Linked DNA regions of Homo sapiens. The protein of the gene in region 3 purifies or fractionates together with the protein of the main gene of each other region. This does not show direct contact. Each region holds a gene or a part of one and is shown on either strand. Other genes may lie near its edges. The genes, in order: DAZAP1, ETFB, CAPG, STK38, PFKFB3 and KHDRBS2.

Region 1 (4,132 bases), on a different chromosome or scaffold from region 3:
TCTGTTGCCCAGGTTGGTGTGCAGTGGCGCGATCTCGGCTCACTGCAACCTCTACTTCCTGCCTTCAAGCATTTCTCCGGCCTTAGCTTCCCGAGTAGCTGGGATTACAGGCGCCCACCACCACGCCCGGCTAATTTTCTTTTGTATTTTTAGTAGAGACGGGGTTTCACTATATATGTTGGCTAGGCTGGTCTCGATCTCCTGACCTAAATTGATCCTCGGCCTCCCAAAGTGTTGGGATTATAGGCGTGCGCCACCTCACCCGGCCTTGTTCCTTGTATTTATTTAATTCTGTGATGATGAATAAACCAAACGATCAGGCTGTCAATGTGCTGTGAGATTAAGGAGAAAAGCAGTAGGCAGCACGTACCCGGTTTTACAAAACCCTGCGGGTCACCTGTTTACTACCGTCAGCCTAGACCGGTTTTTCCACCTCCTTCTGCTGACATTGGAGGACGGGTATCATTCTTTTTGGGGGGTCGTCGTGTGCACTGCAGGGTGCTGAGCGGCATGTCTGGTCTGGACCCACTCGATGCCAGCAGCACCCCGCACTCAAGTTGTGACAACCAAAACCGTGTTTTCAGACATTGCCAAGTTATCCCCTAGGGGGCAAAGTCACCCAGAAGAAGAACCACTGATGTATGCAATTAACAGATGCAACTAAAACAGTATTTGGCTATTAATAGTAATAGCACTTGGGGGGGGGGTCAATAATATCTTTTCATAGTCATTGAATTTAGTTAATTGTTTTGATTTGATTCCAGTTCAGCCCCGAACTGGGTGACCTTGGCCAAGTGACTCAGCCTCTCGGACCCTCGGGATCCTCTTCTGTGAAATGCGGACAGGGGAAGGAGCCTCGCGCGGGACGCTCACGTGCCGTTCCCGCTCCGTCCGCCCGCCTGGGGTGCGGGCGGGTACACTCCCACTCCCCGCAGCGCCCCACGCGGCTCCACCGCTTCCGAGTGAAGAGTTAAAGAGGAAGCGGCAGCCGCGCCTGCGCCCACAGTGCCTAGCCCGGAGCGCCGGTCTCGCAAGCGCGCACGCGCACGCAAGCCCGCACGCGCGCGCACGCACGCACGTGGCTCGGCCCGCGCGCATCCTCCCCTTGCAGGGGCGGGGCCAGCGCAGGGACTCCATTTCCCAGCGTGCCCCGCGGCAACGCCAGGAGCCTCCGAGGAGAAAGGAAAACGCGCGACGGCCCCGACTGCGGCGGCGCGAAATCCGCCTCAGGGACGCACGCACAGACGGAGTACCCCTGGACCCGCCCCCGGAGACCCCGTGCGGGAGCGCGCCCGGGCGTGCGCAGGGGCGGCGGCGCGGCGGCGCGGGGACGCGCGGTGACCGTTGGCGCCGAGGGGAGGAGGCAGCCGCCGCCGCCGCCGCCGCCGCCGCCGCCGCCGCCGCCGCCGTTGCGCAGATCCGGGCCGCGGCTGTGGGGAGGGCGACGGAGCGGGTGACCTTCCGGAGGCGGGAGCGAGCGAGGAGGCCCGGGAGCGCCGAGCGTCGCCGCCGCCGCCGCCATGAACAACTCGGGCGCCGACGAGATCGGGTGAGGACGAGCGGCGCGGGCCTGCGTCTCCGCCCCGAGCCCGGCCCGCCGCTCCCCGCCGCCCGGCCTCAGACGCCGCCCCCCGGGGCCGCCCCGTCAAGGTCACGCCGGCCGGGGGCGGACTCGGGACCCGGACTCGCCGCGGCTTCGCGCCGGGGGCCCTGGACGGGTGCCCGGGGTCTGGGGGGGTCCTGGCGCCCCCGCCGCCGCTTCCCGGCTTCCCGTCCTGGGGGATCCTGAAGGAGAGCCTGAGGGGTCCGGGGGGCCCCGCCGCCGCCTCCAGACTTCCTGGTCGGGGGAACCCCGAACGGCAACCTGGGGGGGTGTCCTGGGGCGCCCGTGCCGCCGCTTCCCGACTGCGCGTCCTGAGGGACCCCGAATGGGAGCCAGAGGGGTTCAGGGGCCCCCGCCGCCGCTTCCTGGTTGTGGCGGCCCCGAACGGGAACTTGGGGGGGTCTGGAGCGTCCCCGTTGCCGCCTGTAGGGCTTCCTGGCCTGGGGGACCCCGAATGAGAACCTGAGGGAGTCTGCGGGGAGTCCAGGGCGCCGTCGCCGCCGCCTCCCGGCTTCCTGGCCAGGGGGACCCCAAACTGTGGCGTGGGGGGTGGTCCGGGGCGCCCCCAGCGCGCGCCCAAACTTGGCGGGCGGCGCACGTGGCGAGCCGAGGCGAGGGTTCCGGTTCTGCCACCGCCCAACCTATCCCACTCGGGGCTCCGGGCTCCCCGCTCCCATCCCACCCCCCCAAAGTGGTAAGGTCGGGAGGGGTTCGCAAACCCAGGGCCCAGGGGGCTCGGGTCAGCCGGGGCCTGCTGTGTTTACGTTGCCTCGGCGCCTCCCCGCCGGGGGTGGGCTTGAGCTGCGGAAGGGAGAGTCAGCGCTTCCGAGGCGGCGACGGGCCCGCGGATCTTTGCTGCGCCGAGGCGTCCCCTCCTATAGGAGCCTGACCTGCTCCGGACCCCGCGGGGCCGGGAAACCTCATTTCGCTGTGCCCCAGGGCTCGGCGCCATTCTTTGGTAGGAGCGGCTCCTGCCGCAGCGACGTCGTTTTAGAGTTGCATTCTTCCGGCAAAACAGTCTGGGTTGGGTTTCCTAGTGGTCTGGTGTAAATTTCTCGGTGCCCTTAGCTTTGAGCAGCGCCCTGTGTTCTCAGCGCTGGGCTTGGCTAGTGCGGGAGCGGTTGCTGCTAGAGGGTTGCCTTGGCAGGCGCCTCTCGCACCAGCTACAGGTCACACTTGTGGATGGGAAATGCCTTTTGTGGGCTCTCCCCCTCCCCAGACAAAACAAAAGAGCACCTTCCGTTGGAGAACCAGGATGAAAGCACTTAGCCCCTGCCTAGCCCGTGCTGTGAGTCCTCTCCAGGCACTTTGACTTGGCAGGGTCCGTGTGCCTGTGTGAGGGACATTGCAGGGATGGGCCTGAGCAGGGAGTCCACCGGCCATGGGGGATGGAGCCATCGACTTTGGGGTGAGGCAGGGAAAGGGCTCCCAGATGGGGTACCTGGATTAGGTCCATTCAAGCCGCGGGTGAACGTGGGCCCGCTCCACCCAAGCCGTGGCTGTGAGGAGGCTGGAGAGAGGTGAGGGCTCCTGTCCCCTCCCTGCATGGACACCCTTGGGAAGTGGGGCAGCTGGGGTCCCAGCCTGGGTCTGGAGGGGTCCCACCCACAGCACAAATAGGCTCGCAGGCCACCCGGACGCCACGGGCTGCGTGGAGGAGAACTGGAGTGCATGGACCCTGCTCTCCTCCCCGGCTGCCAGGAGTGTCCACTGCTTTCTAAGTCAGACTCCTTGGGCAAGAAGTGTTGCCACAGCCGCCCGTCGCATGGGAGACCGGCTTCCATTCTATGCGGAGTCCACGGTCTGCTCTGATCTTGCTGTGTGGAGTTGTTGTGTGCGTGAAATGCTTGTGACCCTGCGAAGCGCCCTCCTGGCAAGTCCCCTGCAGGTGCGGTGGGTGCCATGCAGGAGGGTGCTGAGCTTGGATGGAAGCAGGCCCTCTCTGCGGCAGATGGCGGCTCTCAGGACGCCATGGGTCTGCGGTGTCCCTTACCCACTGGGGGGGCTCGGCAGCCTGAGGAGCTCCCTCTTCCTGATGCAGAGCCCTCACTGCTCACTGCCATGGAGGAGGCAGGAGATCCCGCCGGACCCCGCTTGGAGGGCTGGGCCTGGAGCATGCATGGGTGCGGGGTCAACGCCTCAGGAGACTTGGAGCTTGGGAGCCCCCTGTTCTGGGACACTTGTGGCCGTCCAGCTGCTGCCCTGGGAATCCACACCTGGAAGGTGGGTTAGGGAGCCATCCTTGGGGGAAGCTCTGCTTTTGAGTCTGAGAAGTCGTCCCAAGTTTTGAGGGTCCCTGTGCTGGCTTAGAAGTCCATGTAAAGCTTGATGGGGGATGAAAGTCAGCTGAGGCCTGCCGGTGATAACGGATGCCTTACACACACCGACTTCCAGTCAGCTTGAGGGGGGCTTCATGCAGGAGGAAGCGCATACGTGTGGTGGGGTGTGGGGAGTCCCTCTCTGGATCCTGGTGGGTTTGGCACGCGGACCCTACATGGTGGATGTGATGGACAGTGTCCTCCTTTGGGA
Region 2 (3,500 bases), on a different chromosome or scaffold from region 3:
CTCTGACATTTTCTACCCTTTTTCGGAAAAATGCCAGCCCTCTGCCTGGATGTCATGATCACACATGGTCACAACCTAATTTGGAAAACACCAGCATGAAAGACCTCTTTGCTAAACAGACAAGGGAGGTAAGGGAGGTGGGTGGCAAACCCCACCCATTTGCTTCTGCACATCATTTTTGTCTCTCCTGGGCCCCACTGTGTGCCTGGCTCTGAGCTGGATCCTGGGGACACCATCATGTGCCAGGGAGAGAGGCTTCCGGTGTAGACCAGGGTGTAGCGTGAACCACTAACCACTCTCCTATTAGTTTCTCTCGGCTGCCGTAACAAATCACCATATATTTGGTGGCTTAGAATCTTACAGCTCTGGAGGCCAGAAGTCCAAAGTCAGTGTCACCAGGGTGAGACCAAGGGGTCTGCAGGCCCCGGGAGGAACACGTTTCTTGCCTCCTCCAGCTTCTGCTGACACTCCCTGGCTTGTGGCTGCATCGCTTTATCTTCAATGCCAGCATCCTCAGCTCTGTCTTCACGTGGCCTTCTCCTCTCTCTGCGTGTCTAGTCTCCCTCTGTCTCTCTCTTATAAGGACTCTTGAGATGGCATTCAGGGCCCACCTAAATAATCCAGGATAATGCCCCCATCTCAAGATGCTTAATTTAATCACATCTGCAAAGACCCTGTTTCTAATTTCTTTTTTTTTTTTTTTTAGATGGGCTCTCGCTCTGTCGCCCAGGCTGGAGTACAGTGGTGAAATCTCGGCTCACTGCAACCTCTGCCTCCCGGGTTCAAGCAATTTGCCTGCCTCAGCCTCCCAAGTAGCTGGGATTACAGGCATGCATCACCACGCCTGGCTAATTTTTGTATTTTTAGTAGAGACAGGGTTTCACCATGTTGGCCAGGCTGGTCTTGAACTCCTGACCTCAGGTGATCTGCTCTCCTCGGCCTCCCAAAGTGCTGGGATTACAGGCATAAGCCAACATGGCCAGCCTGCAAAGACCCTGTTTCTAAGTGATTTCCCCTTCTCAGGTGCCAGGGATTGAAACCTGGCTGTTTTGGAGGGCTATTTTATTTCTTGGCCCACCACAATCCTTTTTTTCTTTCTTTCTTTTTTTTTTTTTTTTTGAGATGGAGTCTTGCTCTGTTGTCCAGGATGGAGAGCAGTGGCATGATCTCAGCTCATTGCAACCTCTGCCTCCCCAGTTCAAGCGATTCTCCTGCCTCAGCCTCCTGAGTAGCTGTGATTACAGGTGCCCACCACCACGCCCAGCTAATTTTTTGTATTTTTAATAGAGACAGGGTTTCACTATGTTGGCCAGGCTGGTCTCGAACTCCCGATCTCTGGTGATCCACCCACCTCGGCCTCTCAAAGGCAGGGGATTACAGGCGTGAGCCACCGCTCCTGGCCCAACCTGAGTTTTTATAAGGTCATTCTGGATTCTTGGTGGAGAAAATTGGAAAAGGATGAGAGGAAGTGGGGAGAGAGCTGGGTGGCTGTTTGTCACCAAAGTGAGAGGTGACAGTGGCTCAGACAGCTGTGACAGCAGAGACAGATGCAAGAGGTTTCTGGAGGTGCAACTGACAGGCCATGGTTCGTGATGGGAAGATGACACCAAAAAGGGGCTTCCAGTCAGTACATCAGCCAGAGCCGGGAAGACGGCGAGTTTGGTTTGGGGCACAAATTTTTAAAAAGCCTCCAGGGACATCCACAGAAGCCTTGCTAGGGAGCTGCCCCATTTGGCCTGGAGCCTGCCCTCTTCCTCTTCTCCCATGTGGCCGCCACCCAGGGCTTGGCCAGAGCAGATCTCGGGTGGCAGCTGAGCCTGGTGAGGACACTGGGATGCTCTTGCTATTTCCCTGCCCCTTTTTCTCTGGGGCTGTGGGTGTAACTGTTCCTCCCACAGGCAGGACAGAATCCGAGATGAGAAGGTGGGACCCATAAGGGGCTTCCCACTCTGGCTGTGCCTCATGGAGAGGGTAACATTAAAAGATGGAGGACTGAGACCGGGCGCAGTGGCTCCTGTCTGTAATCCCAGAAATTTGGGAGGCCAAGGTGGGAGGATCACTTGTGCCCAGGAGTTGGATACTAGCCTGGGCAACAGGTTCTACAAACAACAACAACAAAAACAAAAACAGCTGGGCGTGGTGGCTCATGCCTGTAATCCCAGCACTTTGGGAGGCCAAGGTGGGCGGATCACCTGAGGTCAAGAGTTCAAGACCAGCCTGGCCAACATGGCAAAACCCCATCTCTACTAAAAATAAAAATAAAATAAAAAATTAGCCGGGCATGGTAGTGCACGCCTGTAATTGCAGCTACTCAGAGGCTGGGGCAGGGAGAATTGCTTGAACCCAGGAGGTGGAGGTTGTAATGAGCCAAGATTGCGCCACGGCACTCCAGCCTGGGCGACAGAGCAAGACTCCGCCTCAAAACAAACAAACAAACAACAACAAAAAAAAAAAAAAAAAAACAGCCAGGTATGGTGGCACACACCTGTAGTCCCAGCTACTCAGGAGGCTGAGGCGGGAGGATCACCTGAGCCCAGGAGGTCAAGGGTGCAGTGAGCCGTGATCATGCCACTACATGTAACCTGGGTGACAGAGCAAGACCTCATCTCAAAAAAGAAAAAGAAAAAGAAAAAGGAGAAAGAGGAGAAGGAGCTGGAAGAGGAGAGGAAAGAGAAAGAACTGTTATTTTCATCTCTCTCGTTGCCCAGGCTGGAGTGCAGAGGTGCCACCTTGCCTTACTGCAACCTCCACCTCCCGGGCTCAGGTGATCCTCCCACTTCAGCCTCCCCAGTAGCTGGGACCACAGGCGGGCACCATCATGCCGGGCTAATTTTTTTTTTTTTACTTTTTGTAGAGAAAGGATTTCCCCGTGTTTCCCAGGCTGGTCTGGAACTCCTGGCCTAAAGTGATCCGCCTGCTTCAGCCTACCAAAGTGATGGGATTACAGGTGTGAGTCGCAGTGCCTGGCCTTTTTTCTTAAAAAAAAAAACACAACATAGGAGTTGCCCCTTTAAGACAGAAAAGAACCTCATCCACCCATCAGTAAGAGGCCCCAAGCTTCTTGCTGTGAGTCAGGGAGGCTTCTGAAGGGCCTCAAGCCACATCTTGCTCTTGCTCTGGCAGAACTCCCAGCCCTAAGCTCCTGATTCCCAGGCTCCTGACTCCTGAGGAGAAAGGGTAAGAACTTTCCAGACACACACACACACACGCACGCACACACACCTGAGGAAACAAACTAGCTCATCTTCTCAATTAAGCTTGAGTTGATTTTAAGCTTCAAAAACAGTTTAGTTATATTACATAAGTCAGGAAACAATGGTAGGGCTGAAAAATGATAGCTTGTTTGTTTTTTAAATAATGATGGCTCATGCCTGTAATCCCAGCACCTTAGGAGACTGAGGAAGGAGGATCACTGGAGCCCAGGATTTCAAGACCAGCCTGGGCAACATAGAGAGACTTCATCTCTACCAAAAAACAAAATTAGCAGGTCATGGTGGCGT
Region 3 (3,500 bases):
CTGGACAGAATTCACTGGCACTACTACCATCACTTTGAACATATGTTCAAAATATGGGTGATCAAGCCCCATTCCAGACCTGTGGAATCAGAATCCCCAGACCAGGGGCTTGGGCACTGTTAAAGAAAAAAAATATGGCCCAGGCGCAGTGCCTCACGCCTGTAATCCTAGCACTTTGGGAAGCCAAGGTGGGCAATCACTGGAGGTCAGGAGTTCAAGACCAGCCTGACTGACATGGTGAAACCTCACCTCTACTAAAAGTACAAAAAATTAGCCAGATGTGGTGGTGCACGCCTCTAATCCCACTACACAGGAGGCTGAGGCAGGAGAATTGCTTCAACTCAGGAGGCAGAGGTTGCAATGAGCTGAGACTGTGCCACTGCGCTCCAGCCTGGGCAGCAGAGTGAAACTCTGTCTCAAAAAAAAAAAAAAGAAAATTACTAAGAGGAAACATCAAGGGTAAAGAGATTCTGGCTAGACTGAGCTAACAGGATTCCTTTTTTTTTTTGAGACGGAGTTTCGCTCTTGTTGCCCAGGTTGGAGTGCAATGGCATGATCTCAGCTCACTGCAACCTCTGCCTTCCGGGTTCAAGTGATTCTCCTGCCTCAGCCTCCCGAATAGCTGGGATTACAGGCATGAGCCACGAAGCCCAGCTAATTTTGTATTTTTAGTAGAGATGGGGTTTCTCCATGTTGGTCAGGCTGGTCTCGAACTCCCGACCTCAGGTGATCTGCCCGCCTTGGCCTCCCAAAGTGCTGGGATTACAGGCATGAGCCACTGTGCCCGGCCCCTAACAGGATTCTTGCTGAATACAGGCCAGAGTGATCAGACATCACTGGGGCGGCGGGGGCAGGGTGTTGAGGAACCCAATCAGATATCCACGATTATCAGATCGACCAGATATCAAGGGTAGGGGGTTCTAGGTAAATGGCCTTAGCAGGGTTCTTTTGCTAAAACCGGATTTTACAAGCACACAGATGGGCCTACGGGGTGGTTCAGAAGCCTAGTTAAAGTTTGGCCAAGCAAAGAATCTTTGTCAGTACCGACATTTTAATAAGGTCCCAAGGTCATTCTAATGAGCAGCCAAACTCCTTTCTTTTCTTTTTTTTTTTTTGAAACCGAGTCTCACTCCATTGCCCAGGCTGGAGTGCAGTGGCATGGATCTTGGCTCACTGCAACCTCCGCCTCCCAGGTTCAAGTGATTTCCGGATAATTTTTGTGCTTTTAGTAGAGACGGGGTTTCACCATGTTGGCCAGGCTGGTTTCGAACTCCTGACCTCAAGTGAACTGCTCACCACGGCCTCCCAAAGTGCTAGGATTACAGGCGTGAGCCACCGCACCCGGCCTGCCAAACCCCTTTCATCCAAACCCTGATGTGGCTCTCTGGCATGTAGGCTGCCTGATTTTGAGTTAAACACAGAATGAAAAATAGTAAAGGTGACAATTGGCGCACTCCGTGTCTCATTCTTGAGCGCTCCCTGATGGCTTGAGCTTGGGGCAGCCACTTCACCAGCTCAGGCCTGAGTCACAGGCTGGGCTGCCTGTTGCAGGGGATGTGGGCACAGCATGTGATCCTCTGTGGGATGGAGAAACGTTAAAGTTTCCCTCCGCAAACCTCTGCTCTCTGCATGTCCTCTTCCGGAATCGTGGTGCCAAAATATGCCTTCCACTATTTTGTAGGTTGGGAAAGGAAAAGGAAAGTCATAATTCACACAGCATTTCACATCCATTATCACTGCCCTTGACCTGTCCCTCTTTGTTTCCTACTCAGACTTAATACCTTCTGCTCTGTCATCTGCCTTCCCCCTACCCCTGACTTCCCTGGCCCCTGCGAAATATTGCACTTCCTGATCCTGCTGCCCCAGCCCCCAAGAATCTCCTAATGGTGCCAGCTTGCATTTTTACCCTCCAATTCCCCAAGCCCTTACCCTGTGCCACTGGGGCTCATCTTACACAAACTCTGTCCAAATGGATGCACAGCATGAATTGTATTATGTACGAAGTGCATGCTGGCTCTGTGATCTCTGCATTTTGAGCCAAAAAAAGAAATCCTCTAGTGATGGGAACCTATGAAAGCGACAGTGAGTGGAGCCGTAGCTGTTGCATTTTCTGAATTTTTTAAAAAGATAATATCTTTTTAAAAAATACTTGCGTTTAGCATTTTTTCCCTTGAATGACTTTTGTCCAGAAAAAGTGTTCATCATTCTGGCATTTGAGGGAAGCTGGGCATACAGAATTGATAGCTGATGCCTGGGAGTGGGTGAAATTTCTCAGGGAGGGAGTTTAGAATTAGAGCAGCCATTAAATATAATGTTAGGTGAAGGGTTTTTGTTTGTTTGTTGTATTTTAATAGATGCCTTTTTAACAGGTTAAGGAAATTTCTTTCTATTCCTAGTTTGTGGGTAAAAAAAAAATTTTTTTTTTTTTTTTGAGAGGGGGTTTTACTCTGTCATCCAGGTTGCAGTTCAGTGGCATGATCTTGGCTTACTGCAGCCTCTATCTCCTGGGCTCAAGCGATACTCACTCCTCAGCCTCCTGAGTAGCTGGGATCTGGAATTACAGGCTTGCACTACCACATTTGGCTGATTTTTATTTATTTTATTTTATTTTATTTTTTTGAGACAGAGTCTTGCTCTGTCACCCAGGCTGGAGTGCAGTGGCACAATCTCAGCTCACTGCAACCTCTGCCTCCTGGGTTCAAGCAATTCTCCTGCCTCAGCCTCCCAAGTAGCTGGGATTACAGACGCATGCCACCATGCCCAGCTAATTTTTGTATTTTAGTAGAGACAGGGTTTCACCATGTTGGCCAGGCTGGTCTCGAACTCCTGACCTCGTGATCCACCCACCTCGGCCTCCCAAAGTGCTGGAATTACAGGTGTGAGCCACTGCACCTGGCCTTGGCTGATTTTTAAAATTTTTGTAGGGTTGTGGTCTCCTTATATTGCCCAGGCTTGAAAAAATTTTAAACTAGGAATGAATGTAGAATTTTGCTAAATGCTGTTTCTGCATCTATTGAGGTGATTACACATACATGTTTGTTAATAGGGTGTATAGCATTGATTTTCAAATTTTGGCCTGTTTTTTTTTTTTTTGCGTTGTGAGCGGCTTTATTTATTTATTTTAAATTTATAATTGACAGATAATAATTGCACATACTTAGCAGGAGCAGTGTGATGTTTCATTGTACATATGCAATGTATGTGTATATATTGTATAATGATCAAATCAAGGTAATTAGCATATCCATCACTTTAAACATTTATCATTTCTTTGTGATGATAACATTCAAATCCTCTCTTCTGGCTATCTTGAAATATACACTGCATTATTATTAGCTATCATCACCCTGATTTTCAGATATTAAACCAACCTTGCATTCCTGGGATAAACCTCATTTGGTCATCATGGTTTATTTTTTATATATTATTTGATTTCATTTGCTAAAATTTTGTTAATTTTTTTTTTTTTTTTTTTTTTTTGAGATGGAGTCTCACTCTGT
Region 4 (3,500 bases), on a different chromosome or scaffold from region 3:
TTTTACTAAATAAACTGGGTAGGAATTAAAGCTACCCACTGAGAGTTCAGGTTATTTTTCTGCTCCACGTGGTGGAAATTTTTGCTACCTGGAAAAATTTAAAGGGTAAGACATGACATCTAACTAGCTTCTGATGTTTCTCTTCCAGTGCAAAAGGAAAACCTTCAGTTGTGATGCCAGTATACAGTTATTGATGGGACAAAAAACTGGCTTTTATTTCTGCTTTCTTAGGGCACAGGATAGCAACTAGCACCCCCCACCTTATTAAATATTTATGGAATAGGGGAAAGAGAACCTTTTTGTATAAATTGCACCTCAGACTCTTCCCTCCCTTAATCTATATTCAGCCAACTCCACTTTCAAACCATGAGGTTTCTTGCTACTGTTTCAGCCTCAAGAGAAAGGCAAGGTGTGCTCATGGTAGCTTTCCCCTTGACAAACAGGAAATGTTATGGGCACCATTGTGTCCTCCAGGGTGAGTGACAAGTGGTAATTGTAGTGCCTCTCCTTTTCTCTGGCTCCCTGCAGTAGGTAGGGAGCTTAATGGGAGCCAGGGGAGACAGGCAGATGAAGGCTGCCTTCTACTGTATTAATGTCTTGTAGTGACTGGGTCCTAGCCATGGCTGTGGGGCAGCAAGCAATGTTACTGTTTCCCAAAAGCTTTGCTTCTGTATTAAGGTCAAGTAAAGGCAGATGCTTTACTTGGTTTCATTGTGTTTCATAGCACTGTTTCTTTTCACCCTTATTGTCCATTTTTTCCCACCCCAATACCATAAGTACAGATGTAAAGATGTAGGTTTTCTGTACAGTTGCAGCTTTTAAAAAAATTCCCCAAAGAATGATTTTAGTAGATACTGAAAACTCAAATACATAAAGTCAAATGCCTCTGGGCCTCCAAGAGTTAGCATAGAAGCCTGAAGCAAGTTAGATATAAGACCAGGGGAGAGGGTGTTGAAATGGAAGAGTAATGGAAGAGTGCCTTGTCTCCCTAAAGACATGTCAATAAAACAAGCATCATATCAAACATTGTATTAAACCAAACAACAGCCATGGACTAAATTTGCCAACAGCCATGGACTAAATTTGCCAATTTGTGAACCTTGGTACATGTTTTACTTCAGAACATGTTGTAAAAAGTCAAGACCTGTAGCATATGTTAAGACCAAAACCACTATTCAGGGATTGGACTGAGTCTTAATAAATTTAGATCTGAATCAACCCAATTTAGACCTTGTGACACTTAAAAAAGAGGGGAGGGGCCAGGCATGGTGGCACACACCTATAATCCTAGCTACTTAGGAGGCTGAGGCAGGAGGATCACTTTAGACCAGGAGTTTGAGGCTTCAGTGAGCTATGATCACGCCACTGCACTCTAGCCGGAGTGACAGAGCGAGACCCCATCTTGTTTTAAAAAAAGTGTGTGTGGGGGGGATTTGATAATATGCAGTGATGTTTGATTACTGTTCTGCATTTAAAGTAAATAAGGTAAATTTGATAATAAAGCATTGCTTTAACAAAATAATTCCGGTTCTCTGAAACTTTCTACAACTTGGTCCTTTATAGGTATTTCAGTAAAAGTATAAAATTGGAAATGTCATTAATTTGAATCTACAACTTTTCATAGGTGTTCTTGTATTTCAATTCAGTAAGGATTGATTGAGCACATAGCAGTGAACTAAATGCTGTGGTATCATAGCATTCTAGAATTTGTCAGTGAGCTCACTGTTGTTGCAGATACTAGTGCAGACCCGAGGAAGAACTTGGAAGAGAGTCTCACTTTGGGGACTTATTTTTATCATAAAAGATTATTAGACAAAACTCTATGCAAAAGAGTAGTAATTTTAACTAATCAGAGATTCAGTTTATAGCAGTGTTAAAGTTGCTATTTGCATTAAAGCCATTCATTTTGCCATTTTTTAAAGCCTTTCATCACTCAAGTTTTCATCACTGAATACCTTGAAGTCAAATGTTGTCAATTTTGAGTTAGTAGGTTTGCCTAAGCAGAAATTGGATCTTTTATATCATCACGATTAAATACTCAAAACAGTATTTAAGCACAGTATTTAAATTGTTTAAGCAAATATACAATCTAATAAAGCAGAGCAAGCTTTGTCATTAATCAAATGCATATACCTCCAGGTTGGCCACATTCGTGCGGAGCGTGACATTCTAGTGGAGGCAGACAGTTTGTGGGTTGTGAAAATGTTCTATAGTTTTCAGGATAAGCTAAACCTCTACCTAATCATGGAGTTCCTGCCTGGAGGTAATTACTTGACGATGAAAGGTCATTTTTTCTTTTTGTTCTGTGGTTTCTTTCTCTCACATCACGATTAACCCTCCTTTCTACTTTTAAATGTGCTCACAAAGTTGCTTTCTATATCCTTTTTTAGGTCTATAAAGGAAGTCAGTAACCTGTCTTGTGCTGGGGTGCCTTTCTACAATCTTAGTACCATAAAAGTAACCTGTTAATTCATTTACATGATTTCAGATGGACATTTCTTTCTTTTCTTCTTCTTTTTAAAATATATAGGAATAAATTAGGGTGCTCTGCCTGCTCTCCTGTCAATGGGAATCATATATGATCAATAACCCAAGTGACAACATTGAAGCTATAACATCCTTTGCTCCAAATTTTTGTTTCTTTTTGTATAACATATTAATAAGGAGTGAATTTTTTGTTACCCATATTAGTAGCCAGAAAAAATTTCTCATTTCTGAAATTTTAAGTTTTATGTAACTCAGCATGAGCATCTCCTAAGACAGCTCCAAAGTAAACCCAGAACAGAACATGCCATCTGTTCTGAGGAAAGCAGTCTGTTTGTCAGTGAGCAGATGAACTCTGAGCAAACTCTGGTGGGAAAAAAAAAGAGAGAGAACTTTTTTCTTTTTTGTTCCTATAATTGTGGCATAATATTTTGATTTTGTGACAACCCTTAGATTTAGGGTCATCAATACTTTTTAATAAAGAAACACATTTAATAAAAAATAAACAGTTGATTAATGTTAGAAAAGAGTCTGGTAGAATGAGGAGAAACTTTTTTAACATTTAGATGCTAGTTCTTAAATAAGAGTAAGAGCCAACTTGGTTACCAGCTCCTAACGTGTCCTCAAGCCTCAACCTGTACCATCTTCCGTAGCTTCTCATGTCTCCTGGACCCTGCCCTTTGCACTTGGTGGAGCTGGCCTGCAGAGCCATAGAGCATCTGGCCTGAGCTCTCCAATCATCTGGGCAAACTTGCACAGGCGAGGCCCCATTGACTGCTCTCCTGAGCCACAGAACTAAGGCCGTATAGCTACCTTACTGGGGTAGCAGCCCAAGTGCACTGTCTCCATGTGTCTGGTGGGTCTCCAGATTGAAGGGCTGCCAGGAGTGATTAGGAAATCATATTTTTTAAGTATTGGACTGAAAAAGAGCACTTTAATAAATGGTTTAATTTTTGCCTGAGGGAAAAATAGCTACTTTTCTCCAATAATACAAAACATAATGTTCTAAATGAAAT
Region 5 (3,500 bases), on a different chromosome or scaffold from region 3:
AACAATCCTTGATGACAAATCATATTCAGTGGGAATATTTTGAACACTGTGTAGAAGTACAGGAAGTCAACATAGAGTTGAGCCTGATTTTGCTACTGTCCCTCCGATAGTTCCTTTCTTTTTTCTTTCCTTTCTTTCCATTTATTTATTTATTTATTTACTTACTTACTTGCTTGCCTGCTTGCTTAGAGACAGGGTCTCCCTTTGTCTCCCAGGCTAGAGTGCAGTGGCATGATCATAGCTCACTGCAGGTTCAAACTTCTGGGCTCAAGTAATCCTACCGCCTCAGCCTCATGAGTAACTGGGACTACAGGTGTGGGTGTCCACGCCCAGCTAATTTTTTTTTTCTTTAGTAGAGATGAGGTCTTGCTATGTTGCCCAGGCTGGTCTTGAACTTCTAGACTCAAGCAATCCTCTTGCCTCGGCCTCCCAAAGTGCTGGGATTACAGGCATGAGCCACTGCACAGGCCCCTTTCTTTTTTTCTCCATTTTCTTTCTTTTTTCTCCCCCTTTTCTGGGAGGCAGGCCAGCCTCACAGCCAGACACCAGCTGTGGGAGTTGTCTTACGCATATGCTCTGCCCCTTAGAAGGATTCAGTCTGTGCCCTGGAGGGGCCTACGGTCCCGCCTTGCTGTTCTCTGGGGATCACATCTTCGGAGACGGGCCAGGTGCATCCTGCTGTGGGTGGTGGCCTGAGCTGTGGTTCTCGGTGGGGTCTCTCTGCAGGGACTTGTCGCTGATCAAGGTGATTGACGTGGGCCGGAGGTTCCTGGTGAACCGGGTGCAGGACCACATCCAGAGCCGCATCGTGTACTACCTGATGAACATCCACGTGCAGCCGCGTACCATCTACCTGTGCCGGCACGGCGAGAACGAGCACAACCTCCAGGGCCGCATCGGGGGCGACTCAGGCCTGTCCAGCCGGGGCAAGAAGGTGCGGGGTGTGCTGCCGCATGGGCCGTTCTGGCTGTAGGGCGGTTGCAGGGTCTATAGGGTGGGTGGGGAGCTGTGTGCTGCTGCTGCTGCTGCTGCTGCTGCTTGGTGTGCTTGCTGTGTGTGTTATCTGTGTGTGCGCCTGCACGTCTCTATGCATATCTGTGTGCATCTCTGTATGGCTCTGTGTGTGTGTGTGTCTACGCCTATCCATGTGGCTTTGTGTGTGTGTGTCTTTGTGTTACTTTGTATGTGTTTGTATGTGTGTCTCTGGTGTGTGTATCTCTGTGCATGTGTGTGATGTGTGCGCGGTTGTGCACTAGGAAGGGAAGGGGCAGGAAGAGCTGAGCCTGGTCTCTGGGTAGGGTGTGTGCGGCTGTGGCTGTCCCAGTGGCCTGGGGCCCCCACGGTGTAACCAGGTAGTGCACAGCCCTACGTGGGCTGCCTGCTCCAGCCCTGGCTCTTGGAGGAGCTGCGGGCATCTGGAATCAGTGGTCCCCCTCCACCACCTCTCAGTTTGCCAGTGCTCTGAGCAAGTTCGTGGAGGAGCAGAACCTGAAGGACCTGCGCGTGTGGACCAGCCAGCTGAAGAGCACCATCCAGACGGCCGAGGCGCTGCGGCTGCCCTACGAGCAGTGGAAGGCGCTCAATGAGATCGACGCGGTGAGTCCTGGGAGGCGGGCAGGCAGCCTCACCCTCGGGCATGGGGCGGCTTCCCAAGAGGCCCTAGACACCCCTGTGGTTTGTTCCCCTGAGTGACCACTGGGTCCCCGCAGGGCGTCTGTGAGGAGCTGACCTACGAGGAGATCAGGGACACCTACCCTGAGGAGTATGCGCTGCGGGAGCAGGACAAGTACTATTACCGCTACCCCACCGGGGAGGTGAGCGCAGGCTGGGGCGGGCTGACGGTCCCCAGCACACATGACCACTGCTGTGCAGGGCTGGGCCACCCCTCCAGGGAGTTCACTTCCGTGTGGGTTCTGGGGGCTCCTACACCCTCCACCTTGGAACTGAGTCCCCCCAAACTGAACCTTCTAACAGCCTGGGGTGAAGTGCATTTTCCCATAAGCAGAAGTGAGATGTGTTTCCCTAGGGACATAGAACTATATGGGAGAGGAGGAAGGTGGTGTGTGAAGGTCCACTGGGCAGGGTGGTGGGCAGGCTGGCAGGAGGGGTGGCTCTATATCCCCTGGGCAGCGTCTGTGCTTCCCCGTGCACGGTGCCCGGGTGGCTGTGGCTGAGGACGCTGTTGCCTCCTCTGCCGATGGGATCCTCCTGGGCCTGGTGTGTCCTCCCTGCCCGTGCCCTGCTGAGCAGTGTCGTGCCTCAGGCCCCTGCAGGCCCACTGTCCTCTGGCCTCAGACTAAGCCTTACACACCGGGGCCCTGGTTAGCACAGCAGAGAGCCCACAGGAGCAGGAGCTTTTCTGGTCTTTTTCTAAAGTCACAGCCCTCCTGCTTCTTTTTACATTTTTAAATTGATAGAAAATACACATAACCTAAAATTGACCACTTTCATCACGTTAAAGTTATGATTTAGTGCATGTTAGTGTACTCACAGTGCTGTGCAGCCATCACCACAAATTCCAGGCCTTTCCCTCACTGCACAAAGAAACCCAGACCTGTTAGGAGCCGCTCCCGCCTGCCCGGCCCAGCCCCGGCACCGGCCCGTCTGCTTCCTGCATCTGGATCTGCCTATTCTGGGCATTCCATGTCAGTGGAGTCAGATGCCACACGTGCCTTTTGCGCCCAGTTCTTTCACACAGCATTGAGTTTTCCAGGTTCCCCCGTGTGGGAGCGGAGTGGGGAGGGCTTCACTCTTTTTGTGGCTGAGCAATAGTCCACGTTAAACCCTGCTCCTTCTCAACCACTGCTGATGATGGATGATTGATTTTGCGTGGCTCTCTGGCCGGTCTGATGCAGTCTGTGGCCAGCGGCAGAGCCCCTCCCGAGTGCCCTGAGCTCACGTGGGCCCGGCCCTCTGTGCTCAGTCCTACCAGGACCTGGTCCAGCGCTTGGAGCCAGTGATCATGGAGCTGGAGCGGCAGGAGAATGTGCTGGTCATCTGCCACCAGGCCGTCCTGCGCTGCCTGCTTGCCTACTTCCTGGATAAGAGTGCAGGTACCTCGGGCAGGTCGTGGCCCCGGGATGGAGGGAGGAGGGGACTGGCACTCGGCGGGGGGTCAGCCGCAGACCTGCCGTGGCCTGCCCTGTGTTGGCTGCTGTGCCATGGGGTGTTAGGAGAAGGGCACAGGTGTCGGCTCCCGGCTGCTTCAGGTCCTCTCTGTCCAGCGCTTCCTTGAAGCCCTTGGGAAATGCTGTGGAGCCCAGGTTGATGCCGGGGACTTCATTGCTTCATAAACAGCTCCCTGAGACCCGCCCCTGGCTCCACACATCCCAGGGTCTTGGCTTGGGGTGGGGGCTGCACTTCTCTTCAGTGCCCTCTAAGGAACAAACAGCCCGGAAAACTCTGACAATCCCATTGAAATGTTAAGTCTTAGCATGTCCAGTCCAGTGCAGCTGAATCCCTAGACAGACCTAAATTGTTTGGGAGTGACTTTTTCCCAA
Region 6 (3,500 bases), on a different chromosome or scaffold from region 3:
CCAATCTGTTTCAAAGTTATTAAATTCTAATACCTCAGAACATACAGATAACATTTAAATCAAGCTATACTGTCTTCTGTTTCTGATCAAACGTAAAATTTGCTCACTTCTAAATGTTAAACAAAACCCTGACTGCCTCAAGACCCAAGAGAGGGCCTACAGTTGTTCTTTGCTTCTAGAAGAATTCAGCAAATGTAAGCAGTTCTCTAAAAAATGTGGGGAAAAAAATGCCTCAGCAAACCACACAAAATTATCCAATCACTTTTTGGGTCCAAAGAAGTCTGAAATGTTCCCTCTGCTCTGCCACCACATCACTAAGCTCTCTAAGAAGCAGTCAATGTAAGTCATTCAGAAAATGTAGTAGGCTGTCTTGATGATCCTTAATTCAATTCTATACTAAGGTAAATTCCCCCATTCATAAATTTATTTGACTTTTATAAGCTATACTTATATTTTATGATATCATATAATAATTCATCCAATATTTGTATTCAGAAACATATTTTAGAAGTTAATGGCAACAACAACATTGATCTTCTAGATAAAATGTGCATACTAATAGCTGACATTCTTTCAAAGCCTAACATTGGGTCTCTATCACAGGAGACAATGTGGTGTAATGGTTACACGTGGCATCTAGGTGAAAAGGCCTGGGTTTCAACTTTACAATTTCTTTGCTGTGAGACCTGATATAAATTAATTTATCTAAGCCTTAATTTGTTTAATTTGTAAAACTAATGCTAATAACTACACAATAAGGTTGGTGGGTAGATTACTTGTGGTAATGCATCGTCTAGTACAGTGTCTGGCAAAGAGTAAACTCAATAAATGTTGAGATGATGATAATGGTAATAATGATAAATCTCTCATTACCATAAACAACAGAAGTTATGACTTTCTCTGAATTCCTATATCAGTGGTCTCTAAAATTTCTGTAAAATCTATCAGACCTTCCATATACTTATTTATATCATATATGTATATATATAAATATCTGTCTATATATGTAGTTGAATCCCCTATAGATTATAAACCCCATAAATTAAACATTTGATACTTCATTTATTAATAGCACATATCATATGCAGTTTTTTGGGTTTTTCTGTTGTTTTTGTTTTGTTTTGTTTTGTTTTTGAGACGGAGTCTTGCTCTGTCACCCAAGCTGGAGTGCAGTGGCGTGATCTCGGCTCACTGCAACCTCCACCTCCCGGGTTCACACCATTCTCCTGCCTCAGCCTCCCGAGTAGCTGGGACTACAGGCGCCCGCCACCACGCCTGGCTAATTTTTTTGTATTTTTAGTAGAGATGGGGTTTCACCGTGTTAGGCAGGATGGCCTCGATCTCCTGACCTTGTGATCCACCTGCCTCGGCCTCCCAAAGTGCTGGGATTACAAGCGTGAGCCACTGTGCCCGGCCCATATGCAGTTTTTAACAACACACATTCAAGGGCATATGTGATTGTGTAGTCAAATGCAGTAGAGTACTAGTCTGATGGAATTAATCCTCCAAACTATAACTAAAATATAAGGTAAATAGCCTAATGCTTTTATGATTGTTTATTATCTCTCTATACTGCAAAATCTTTTTGGAAGTACTGTTATGAGTCAAATGGAGGATGTGCTAAAAATGACTTCTTTCCTCCAAAAAAGTTAATAACAATGGAGCAAGAGGATGCTTGGCCATGACCTCACAAGTATTTGGCAAATAAAAGATGCAATCACTACAGAACTCTGCACTTGAGAAGATGAGGAAGCCATATAATATGGATATTTGCTAACATTAATGTAGAATATCATCTATTAGTGGTTATTCCACCTCTAAAAAAATTTCCAAATTCAGTTTATTTTATTGGAATTCAGCAGTTTGTGGGGAATAGTACCAAATTTTGATCTATGAAATATATTAAATATTACACGGTTTATAGCTTTAAAAAATCAAACTGATGCCAGAATATAATTCCAATGAAGATATATTTCTCATAATATAGCCAAACCAAAAAGAAAGATCAAATTCAGTGCTCAAATAAGTGCAAAAGGAAAGCTGATGATACTACACAGTTATTTCCAGGGGTTTCTAAAAACTACCTCCAAACCTCACTTCCTCCCCTTGTACAGCTGCTGTGGGAACAAACAGCTTCACTATAGACTGTATACATAAAGAGAAACTGAGAATAATGATCAGTTATGTTCCCATTCTCAGGTACCAGGCCATAAAAAAACCTTAAAATCAGATAAATATAGAGAATACTACTGTGTCCATTATCTAGATGAATTTATCGTGGTCATGCTCATTCCTATATAACTAGTCAATGAAATATTAATATTAATGTACAAGGCCTAATAGTCAATCAAAAGAAAATTTCATAAAAATATAAATTAAAACACATAAATGAATGCGGATGGGACATTACAGATAAACATAAGAAGACTTTCTTTTCTAGAAAGTGGAAAAAAGGAGGCCAATTGTCTCAGTACCACAAGATTCGGGAATGACATTTCAATGGTTTTCTTAGATTTTCTTTGTGCCGCGTATGTGCCAGACTGAGTGCTAGAAAAGCCAGCAACTCAGAAGTATTAAAGGCAGACACGGCCAGGCGTGGTGGCTCACGTCTGTAATCCCAGCACTTTGGGAGGCCGAGGTGGGCGGATCACGAGGTCAGGAGATTGAGACCATCCTGGTTAACACGGTGAAACCCCGTCTCTACTAAAAATACAAAAAATTAGCCAGGCGTGGTGGCGGGTGCCTGTAGTCCCAGCTACTCAGGAGGCTGAGACAGGAGAATGGCCTGAACCCGGGAGGCGGAGCTTGCAGTGAGCTGAGATTGTGCCACTGCACTCCAGCCTGGGTGACAGAGCCAGACTCCATCTCAAAAAATAAATAAATAAATAAATAAAAATAAATAAAAAGCAGACACACACAAAGCCTCAATCCAAACAACAAAGAAACAAATGGGCAGATTCTCAGATACCTCACAGAGTAAAGAAGGACTTCCCTGTACTATCTTTCCAACTTCCTGCATATGAATAATTTTTCAAAATTGACTTAAAAACAAATGGAAACTTTCAAAGTGGCCTCCTGAGGTTTTGAATTATGCAAAGATAAAATATGACTGAATTAGTATTATCATTGTAAGTGACAGAATTACTGAAAAATTGTTTCTGGAGATATCTTCTAAACACATGGTAGGAGAAAAAGGAAGATATGAGGTCAGCATCATTCAGTTAAGAAACATTTATTGAGGCCTTCTACATATAAGACTGAAGGCAAGCATTAAAAATTCAAAGACAGAAGTCATAGTATGGCCCTCAAGCTTAGAGGGGGAGACAACCAAGATCAAAAAGAATTGCATGTTGCAATGTAGTAGTGGTGGATAGGTTGAAAATAAAACCAGAAGTGCACTTAATTTATAATGAATTAGATGAGAAGCCATTATGAAAGGCTTACTAGAAGAAGGAATAGCAGTACTCAGTTTTATTGGATGAAGATAAATTATAATCATG

Evidence for each region.
Region 1: the proteins of CAPG (region 3) and DAZAP1 fractionate together in Homo sapiens (co-fractionation; one large-scale study listed by BioGRID). This does not show direct contact.
Region 2: the proteins of CAPG (region 3) and ETFB fractionate together in Homo sapiens (co-fractionation; one large-scale study listed by BioGRID). This does not show direct contact.
Region 4: the proteins of CAPG (region 3) and STK38 purify together in Homo sapiens (affinity purification with western blotting; one study listed by BioGRID). This does not show direct contact.
Region 5: the proteins of CAPG (region 3) and PFKFB3 purify together in Homo sapiens (affinity purification with mass spectrometry, with the first as the bait; one large-scale study listed by BioGRID). This does not show direct contact.
Region 6: the proteins of CAPG (region 3) and KHDRBS2 purify together in Homo sapiens (affinity purification with mass spectrometry; 2 studies listed by BioGRID and IntAct, with this or other methods). This does not show direct contact.

What each region holds. Positions count from the first base shown.
Region 1 is NC_000019.10:1,406,254-1,410,385, forward strand, and holds the start of DAZAP1 (DAZ-associated protein 1), read left to right. Parts: upstream 1-1,332; 5' UTR 1,333-1,520; coding exon 1,521-1,549; intron 1,550-1,631; exon of another isoform or gene 1,632-3,368; coding exon of another isoform or gene 3,369-3,826; intron 3,827-4,132. UniProt on the Homo sapiens protein: RNA-binding protein, which may be required during spermatogenesis.
Region 2 is NC_000019.10:51,356,389-51,359,888, forward strand, and holds part of ETFB (electron transfer flavoprotein subunit beta), read right to left. Parts: intron 1-3,500. UniProt on the Homo sapiens protein: Heterodimeric electron transfer flavoprotein that accepts electrons from several mitochondrial dehydrogenases, including acyl-CoA dehydrogenases, glutaryl-CoA and sarcosine dehydrogenase.
Region 3 is NC_000002.12:85,403,867-85,407,366, reverse strand, and holds part of CAPG (macrophage-capping protein), read left to right. Parts: intron 1-3,500. UniProt on the Homo sapiens protein: Calcium-sensitive protein which reversibly blocks the barbed ends of actin filaments but does not sever preformed actin filaments. May play an important role in macrophage function.
Region 4 is NC_000006.12:36,516,480-36,519,979, reverse strand, and holds part of STK38 (serine/threonine-protein kinase 38), read left to right. Parts: intron 1-2,139; coding exon 2,140-2,263; intron 2,264-3,500. UniProt on the Homo sapiens protein: Serine/threonine-protein kinase that acts as a negative regulator of MAP3K1/2 signaling. Converts MAP3K2 from its phosphorylated form to its non-phosphorylated form and inhibits autophosphorylation of MAP3K2.
Region 5 is NC_000010.11:6,219,932-6,223,431, forward strand, and holds part of PFKFB3 (6-phosphofructo-2-kinase/fructose-2,6-bisphosphatase 3), read left to right. Parts: intron 1-726; coding exon 727-934; intron 935-1,449; coding exon 1,450-1,596; intron 1,597-1,709; coding exon 1,710-1,814; intron 1,815-2,923; coding exon 2,924-3,053; intron 3,054-3,500. UniProt on the Homo sapiens protein: Catalyzes both the synthesis and degradation of fructose 2,6-bisphosphate.
Region 6 is NC_000006.12:62,276,226-62,279,725, forward strand, and holds part of KHDRBS2 (KH domain-containing, RNA-binding, signal transduction-associated protein 2), read right to left. Parts: intron 1-3,500. UniProt on the Homo sapiens protein: RNA-binding protein that plays a role in the regulation of alternative splicing and influences mRNA splice site selection and exon inclusion. Binds both poly(A) and poly(U) homopolymers. Phosphorylation by PTK6 inhibits its RNA-binding ability.